Homo sapiens: one gene and its partner. The protein of the gene in region 1 purifies or fractionates together with the protein of each later gene. This does not show direct contact. Each region holds a gene or a part of one and is shown in the gene's direction. Other genes may lie near its edges.

The links.
Region 2: the proteins of CEMIP2 (region 1) and PRMT2 purify together in Homo sapiens (co-immunoprecipitation; one large-scale study listed by IntAct). This does not show direct contact.

The regions. Positions count from the first base shown.
Region 1 is NC_000009.12:71,733,875-71,737,694, reverse strand, and holds part of CEMIP2 (cell surface hyaluronidase CEMIP2), read left to right. Parts: intron 1-2,700; coding exon 2,701-2,889; intron 2,890-3,820. UniProt on the Homo sapiens protein: Cell surface hyaluronidase that mediates the initial cleavage of extracellular high-molecular-weight hyaluronan into intermediate-size hyaluronan of approximately 10-5 kDa fragments.
Region 2 is NC_000021.9:46,641,903-46,645,722, forward strand, and holds part of PRMT2 (protein arginine N-methyltransferase 2), read left to right. Parts: intron 1-1,632; coding exon 1,633-1,737; intron 1,738-2,403; coding exon 2,404-2,586; intron 2,587-3,820. UniProt on the Homo sapiens protein: Arginine methyltransferase that methylates the guanidino nitrogens of arginyl residues in proteins such as STAT3, FBL, histone H4. Acts as a coactivator (with NCOA2) of the androgen receptor (AR)-mediated transactivation.

The DNA.
Region 1 (3,820 bases):
AAGTTTTATCTGGATAGTTGGCAGAGCCGGGTACGGTGACTCATGCTTATAGTCTTAGAGCTTTGGGAGCTTGAAGTGGGAGGATCACTTAAGGTTAGGTCTGGGCAACATAGTGGGACCATGTCTATAATTTTTTTTAAAGACTGTAAGAATACATATTATTGGTTGTTCCTTGCTTGAATTTCCCCACTTTTGATTCTCCAAAGTGAATGTGTTCTTCTTTCACTCATATTGTCATCCCTTAGAGTTAGCATATTTTTTTTCTTTTTCTTTCTTTTTTTTTTTTTGAGACGGAGTCTCGCTCTGTCACCCAGGCTAGGGTTCAAGCGATTCTCCTGCCTCAGCCTCCTGAGTAGCTGGAACTACAGGCACGTGCCACCACACCTGGCTAATTTTGTATTTTTAGTAGAGACGGGGTTTCACCATGTTGGCCAGGCTGGTCTTGAACTGCCGACCTCAGGTGATCTGCCCACCTTGACCTCCCAAAGTGCTGGGATTACAGACTTTTCTTTCTTTCTTTCTTTTTTTTTTTTTTTTTTGAGAAAGATCTTACTCTTGTCTCCCAGGCTGGAGTGCAGTAGTCCAATCACAACTCACTGCAGCCTTGACCTCCTGGGCTTAAGCAATCTTCCCAGTATCTGGGAGTACAGGCATGCACCACCACACCTGGCTAAGTTTTTGATTTTTTTGTAGAGATGAAGTCCCACTATGTTGCCCAGGCTGGTCTCCTGGACTCAGTGATCCTCCCGCCCTAGCTGCCTAAAGTGTTGGGATTACAGGAATAAGCCACCACGCCCATCCTAGAGTCAGCATCTTAAAGTAGCCACAGGGTAGTATGCTGTTAATTAGACGACAGAGAAGTACTGATATTTATTAAACAGCTATCTTTTGAAATGTCATGTTTTCCTTCTCTGTCAGTGTTATGAAGTAGTTCTCATCTATTTCATGGACATTTCCGTTAAATCAGTTTTTGATTTATGACAGATTATATCATGAATGTTAAGAAGCAGAAAACATTTCTATACTGGATAGCATGTAAAAGAAGCCAAGTTATGAAGTTGGATCAGATTTTCAGTTCCTGTCTGCTTAACTGGGAACTAACTTTGACTTTCAAAGAAGATATTAGGAAAGATCAGTAATTAGTAGTCATTAGATTACATAATTTACATCATCCCAGGAAAGGAGCTGAGTTGGACAGGGGCACCATCATGTGACCTCAGGTTACATTGCAGATCATACTGGTCATACTCATCCATTCAGTAGACATCCGTGGATACATACCACAAACAAGACAGAGTAGTGCATACGTAAATAATGTACCCTGCTACCTTCACTGATGCAGCTTCCAAGGAGGTGAGCAGTCCTCCCACTGGGAAGGTATGAACAATACCAGGCAGTATACCGAGAGAATACCGGAGAGAGAGAGGTTGCTTCCAACAAGGATGTTTGGGAAGTCCTTAAAGAATTGCCTGAACTTCATAAAAAGGACAGTATGTTGGTTGGTCAAGAAGAATGGAAGGACATTTTAGGGGAAGAATAAATCACCATCAAAGGCACAGAGATGAAGGGTTTTCTGAGACAGATTTTTATGTTATTTTTTTGAGAGAGGATCTTGCTTTGTTGCCTAGGATGGAGTGCAGTGGCACAGTCGTGGCTCACTGCAGCCTCAAACTCCTGTGCTCAAGTGATCCTCCCACCTCAGACTCCCAAGTAGCTGGGACCACAAGCGTGTGCCACCATGCCCAGCTACTTCTAAAAATATTTTCTAGAGATGGGGCCTCGCTCTGTTGCTCAAGCTAGTCTTGAACTCCTGGGCTCAAGTGATCCTCTGGCATCGGCCTCCCAAAGTGTTGAGATTATAGGCGTGAGCCACTGTGCCCAGCCACAAATTGTTATTTTATGTATTATTTTTGAGACAGGGTCTTGCTGTGTCTCATAGGCTGGAATGTGGTGGCCCGATCATAGCTCACTGCAGCCTTAACCTTCCTGGCTCAAGCAGTCCTCCCACCTCAGCTGCCCAAGGAGCTGGGGATGTAGGCACACACCACCATACCTGGCCAATGTTTTTTTGTAGGGACAGGGGTCTCACTATGTTGCCCAGGCTGGTCTCGAACTGCTGAGCTCAAGTGATCCCCCTGCCTTGGCCTCCTGAAGTGCTGGGATTACAGGTGTGAACCACCACGCCTGGCCCACAAATTCTTATTCTTAATATTAAGATTGTTAGTGTGCTAATGTTCTATCCATTTTTCTGTGCTTGGATCAACTTGAAGCACTGGGTATTTATTACAGACCTATCCTCTGCTTGACAACTTCTGCTGGAATATATGTACTTGTCACATATTAGGATGGTTTGGGGTCAGTATAACAGTTGTTGCACTGAGTTAAATATAGCAAGAGATTTGGGGATCTAGAGCCTTCTTCAAAAGTATAAAATAATGGTTTACTAAGGTGACATCTTGTGTTCCTTCATGGCTAGAGGTACATGGGGCACTCACCCCTTGAAGGCAGGGATCTCTCTGTTTTCATATTTTTATTACTTATATCTGTAGAGTGACTAATACATGGTAGCATGCGTAAAAATTTGCTGAATCGTGGTTATCTTAACTTTTGATTTGTGAATCAGTGTGAGGGTTCATTTTAGAGAGAAAAAAATACTGTTAATGTATCACTTTCTTTTTCTTTTTTTTTTTTTTGGTTTAGGCGTTTCTCTTTCAGGATTCCGGGTAGAGGTTGTAGATGGAGTGAAGCTAAATTTGCTAGATGATGTTAGTAGTTGGAAACCTGGAGACCAGATTGTGGTCGCAAGCACAGACTATTCCATGTACCAAGCAGAGGAGTTCACTCTTCTTCCCTGTTCTGAATGCAGCCATTTTCAGGTCAAAGTCAAAGGTATTAAACTGCTTAGAGTACTTCTTGGGAAACACACTATTTTCTTGGGATTTGATTCCTGAAATCCTTTTTCCTCTCAGTCACTACCATCACTACCACCACCACCATCACAATCATCAGTATTGAAAGTCATAGCAGTGGAGTGCATCAAACACTAGATTCCAGGGAATATTAGATAAAAATAGCTATTGAGCAATATTCTTGCTGCTAATGATACATATTGCTTCAGTTTCTTTGTATAAAAAAAAGATGTCAACTAGAGAAATTGATTTTCCAAGGTCTTTTCTATTATTTTAAGTTCTGGGTTACATGTGCAGGATGTGTAGGTTCATTACATAGGTAAACGTGTGCCATGGTGGTTTGCTGCACCTACCAACCCTTCACCTAAGTATTAATCCAAGCATGCATTAGCTATTTTTCCTGATGCTTTCCCTCCCGCTGCCTCCCCTCCATTTTCTTTTGTATTAATTTTCTACTATCAGATAATAGTAAACCCAATGATGAATTAGATCCATTTATTAATAGAAGTATTTCTTAATTAAAAGAAATCCTATGGTTTTCGAGTGCCTATTTGATTACCAAAAACAAAAACAAAAACAAAAACTCATTGATATTTAAAATGGAATCAGATAGGTATTTTCTTAAGACTACATTTCCTTGCTGGGAGCAGTGGCTCCCGCCTATAATCCCAGCACTTTGGGAGGCTGAGGCAGGTGGATCTCTTGTGGTTAGGCATTTGAGACCGGCCCGGCCCATACGGTGAAACCCCATCTCTACTAAATATACAAAAAACATTAGCCAGGCATGGTGGCACAAGGCTTGTAATCCCAGCTGCTAGGGAGGCTGAGGCAGGAGAATCGCTTGAACCCAGGAGGCGAAGGTCGCAGTGAGCTGAGATCATGTCACTGCACTGCAGCCTGGGCGACAGAGC
Region 2 (3,820 bases), on another chromosome or scaffold:
CCTGGCATAGGGAAAAGCACGAAGGGTACAAATAGACAGTAAGGTAAAAAAAGATGCCAGCAAGTATTTTAAAAACGCCTAACCACACAAAGAGAGGGAAATGGAAGTAACAACAGTGATTTTTACCCATGAAATTGACAGAGACTAAAGTGATTGGTATCTATTGAGTGAGAGTGTGGGAAGATTGGTGGTTCCCTCTCAGCAAGCGGTCCAGGGAACACCTTTCTGGAGAGCACTGGGTGGTAAAACCAAAAGCCACATAGTCTCAGTCCATCAGGTTCACATTCAGAGACTTACCCTAAGAAGATTAAGGTACATACAGAATGATTTATGTTGAAAGAAGTTCATCTTAACATGATTTAGAATAGTAAAAACTGAAAAGTCTAAATGTACAAGACTAGGAAACTGGATAGGTAAGTCCTGATAATTCATAGACTGGATATTAAATAGTGTTAGAAGTATATTTAATAAGAAAAATGTTCAGAGTTTATAAAGTGAAAACCATAGGCCACAGGCTTATTGTGTGAACCCAGTGAATGCTTTGTACTTATGTTACGTGTCCACTTTTTTAAAAGTCTGAAAGTATAAACACCAATGTGCTGTCTGTTATTATCTGTGATCAGTGAGCAAAATTACAGGAGGTTTTAATTTTCTTCTGTGTACTTGGTGTTTTCACACATTTTCTAAAGTAAACACGAATTACTTTTATGTTTAGGAAAATGTGTTTAAAATGTATGTATTGAGACAAGGTTGATTCATTGAACTGGAGTGTGTGATCTGAGGTTCTGCCCCCTGCAGTGATGTCTTCCAGGCAAGCTTATTCTTATATAAAGTGAACGGCCAGGCATGGTGGCTCATGCCTGTAGTCCTAGCACTTTGGGAGGATGAGGCAGGTGGATTGCCTGAGCTGAGGATTTCGAGGCCAACCTGGGCAACATGGTGAAACCCCATCTCTACTAAAAATACAAAAAATTAGCTGGGTGTAGTGGTGCACACCTGTTGTCCCAGCTACTTGGGAGGCTGAGGCATCAGAATCACTTGAACCTGGGAGGCGGCAGAGGTTGCCCTGAGCCGAGATCATGCCATTGCCCTCCAGCCTGGGCAACAGAGCAAGACTCTGTCTCAAAAAAAAAAAAAAAAAAAAAATGGAGGGGTTGGGGGAGGCTCCAAGGACCTGTGTGGGTCCAAGCTGGGCTCTGCTGCCTCGTGGAGGTTTGTGCCATGCCATCAGCTCTTTCCACAGGCCCCTGGCTGTGCCTGCCTGGGGCGCTGGGCCCCTGGCTCTGTCCTCACACTGGTTTCTCTTCATGGGGTTGATGATCACCTTCAGGAAGCAAAGCTGATGAAGGACAAGGGCTCCTCACCAAATAGACACTAGTGGTGCCTGTTTCTGACTTCTTGCTTTGATGTTCTCTTTTAGGGTCCAGATAATTTTTTTTTTTAGAAAAGAAATGTAGAGTGAAGGTGACAGCCTTTGATTATAGTAGTAAAGATGATCCAAATAGTTTGTATAATAAATACTTGGACACATGAATCTGTATTTGAAATTTGAAACCATCCTAATAATATAGCCAAAAAAAAAAAAAAAAAGCTCCAGCGTCCTCTCCTCACGCTTTCCTTGGCTTTGAGCAGGGAGAAGAGCCTGCTGAGTGCAGTGAGGCCGGTCTCCTGCAGGAGGGAGTACAGCCAGAGGAGTTTGTGGCCATCGCGGACTACGCTGCCACCGATGAGACCCAGGTAGCCACACGTGGTGGTTAATGCTTTATGGCTTTCAGCATGTTCAGTGTCAAAAGGAGATAAATTTTGCAGACGTCACACCAAAGTTAAATGAAGAGGTATTCAGATGCGTAGGGCCACACAAGACCTGTGTGTGAAGCTCACAGCCCAGCCAGTTCTGCCTCAAGCATGATGTAAAGATACGAGGCATGGAGTGGGGACCCTCAGCCAGGGGCAGAAGCACCTGTTCTGGTTTCTACTTGGAATGTAGAACCCACCCAGTTAATGAAAAGTAAGGCTACCAAATATATCAAGCTATATCTGCTTGGACATAGCTTTGTTTACTTTGTGACAGGAATTTCTTAGAGTCAGCCTCCAGTAACTCAGTTGGCATAGTTGAGTTACAATGAAGAGGCTGTTGAGAAATTCTCTCCTAAGCCATTTGAAAATGTTTACTCCTTCTTTTAAAAAATATCTGTTAAGCTGTGCCCTCCTTTCAGGTAGATGTTCCAGAGGCATCGCTAAGTCATGGTGTCACTTGCAAACATTCTCAGTTGCTGTCATTACCCACTGACTCCTGTTTGAAATCTCTGTGATTTTGTCACCATTGATGGGATTTATCACTGAGCCACATTTGAAATACCAATGACTGGTTTTCTTATTGAATTTTAACTTTTTTTTTTCCAGCTCAGTTTTTTGAGAGGAGAAAAAATTCTTATCCTGAGACAAACCACTGCAGATTGGTGGTGGGGTGAGCGTGCGGGCTGCTGTGGGTACATTCCGGCAAACCATGTGGGGAAGCACGTGGATGAGTACGACCCCGAGGACACGTGGCAGGATGAAGAGTACTTCGGCAGCTATGGAACTCTGGTATTGCTTTCTAAATTCCCTGTTCAGCTGGCCAGGCGGTGGGTTCTCTCTAGCTTTAGTTCTACTGCAACGTTCAGAGCAGGCCCATAGTCTTACAGGCCAGAGCTCCTCTGTTGTAGCCACTCAGCTCTGACATGGTTGTGTGGAAGCCACTGTGGATGACACACAAAGTGTGCACTGTTGTGTTCCAATAAAACTTTATTTATGGATCTTGAAATTTGAATTTATACTGTACAGTTTTCATGTGTCACAAAGTATTTTCTTTTGATTTAAAAAAATCATTTAAAAATGTAAAACCCACTGTTAGTTTGGAGGCCATCCAAAAACAGGTGGTGGGCTAGATTTGGCCCATGGCTTAGTTTGCCGACCCCTGGCTTAGAGATATGATTTGAGCAATGAGATTATGTGCGTGCTCCCTCAGTATTTAAAAAAAAAGCAGTAAATTTTACTTTAAAAATGAAATTAGGCTGAGTGTGGTGGCTGACACCTGTAATCCCTACACTTTGGGAGGCCAAGGCAAGAGGACACTTGGCTTGAGACCAAGTGTTCAAGACCAGCCTGACAACATAGTGAGAAAAAATAAAAAATATAATTCGTCTCTACAAAAAAAAAATTAAAAAAAAATATAATTAGCTGGGCATGGTGGTGCACGCCTGTAGTCCCAGCTACTCGAGAGGCTGAAGTGGGAGGATTGCTCAAGCCTTGGAGGCCAAGGCTGCAGTGAGCCATGATGGCGCTGTTGCACTTCAGCCTGGGCTACAGAGCGAGAGCCTGTCTCAAAAAAAAAAAAAATAGAAAAAATTCTATAAATCTATGAATAATACTACTTAGGTCAGGTGTGGTGGCTCATGCCTGTAATCACAGGACTTTGGGAAGCTGAGGTCAGAGCATCACTTGAAGCCAGGAGTTCAAGTCTGTGGTGAGCTATGATTGCGCTACTGCACTCCAGCCTGGGTGATTGAACCAGACTCTGTCCCTAAAAAAATAATAAAAGCCCAGCTTCTAAATAGCTTACCGAAATTTTTTCCCCACCATGGAGAAATGCCTATAACCCGATGGTCCAGGCAACAATCTCTGGTTACATTTTAAAACTAGATGAAAACAGTTACTTGCAGGATGAATGTTATAAAAATGATGTTAGTTGAAAGAAGGAATAGGGCAAAGAATCTATAACGTTTGACTCAATTATATAAAGTTAAGAGGCCATATTAGAAGGTTTTTTGTTTGTTTTTGT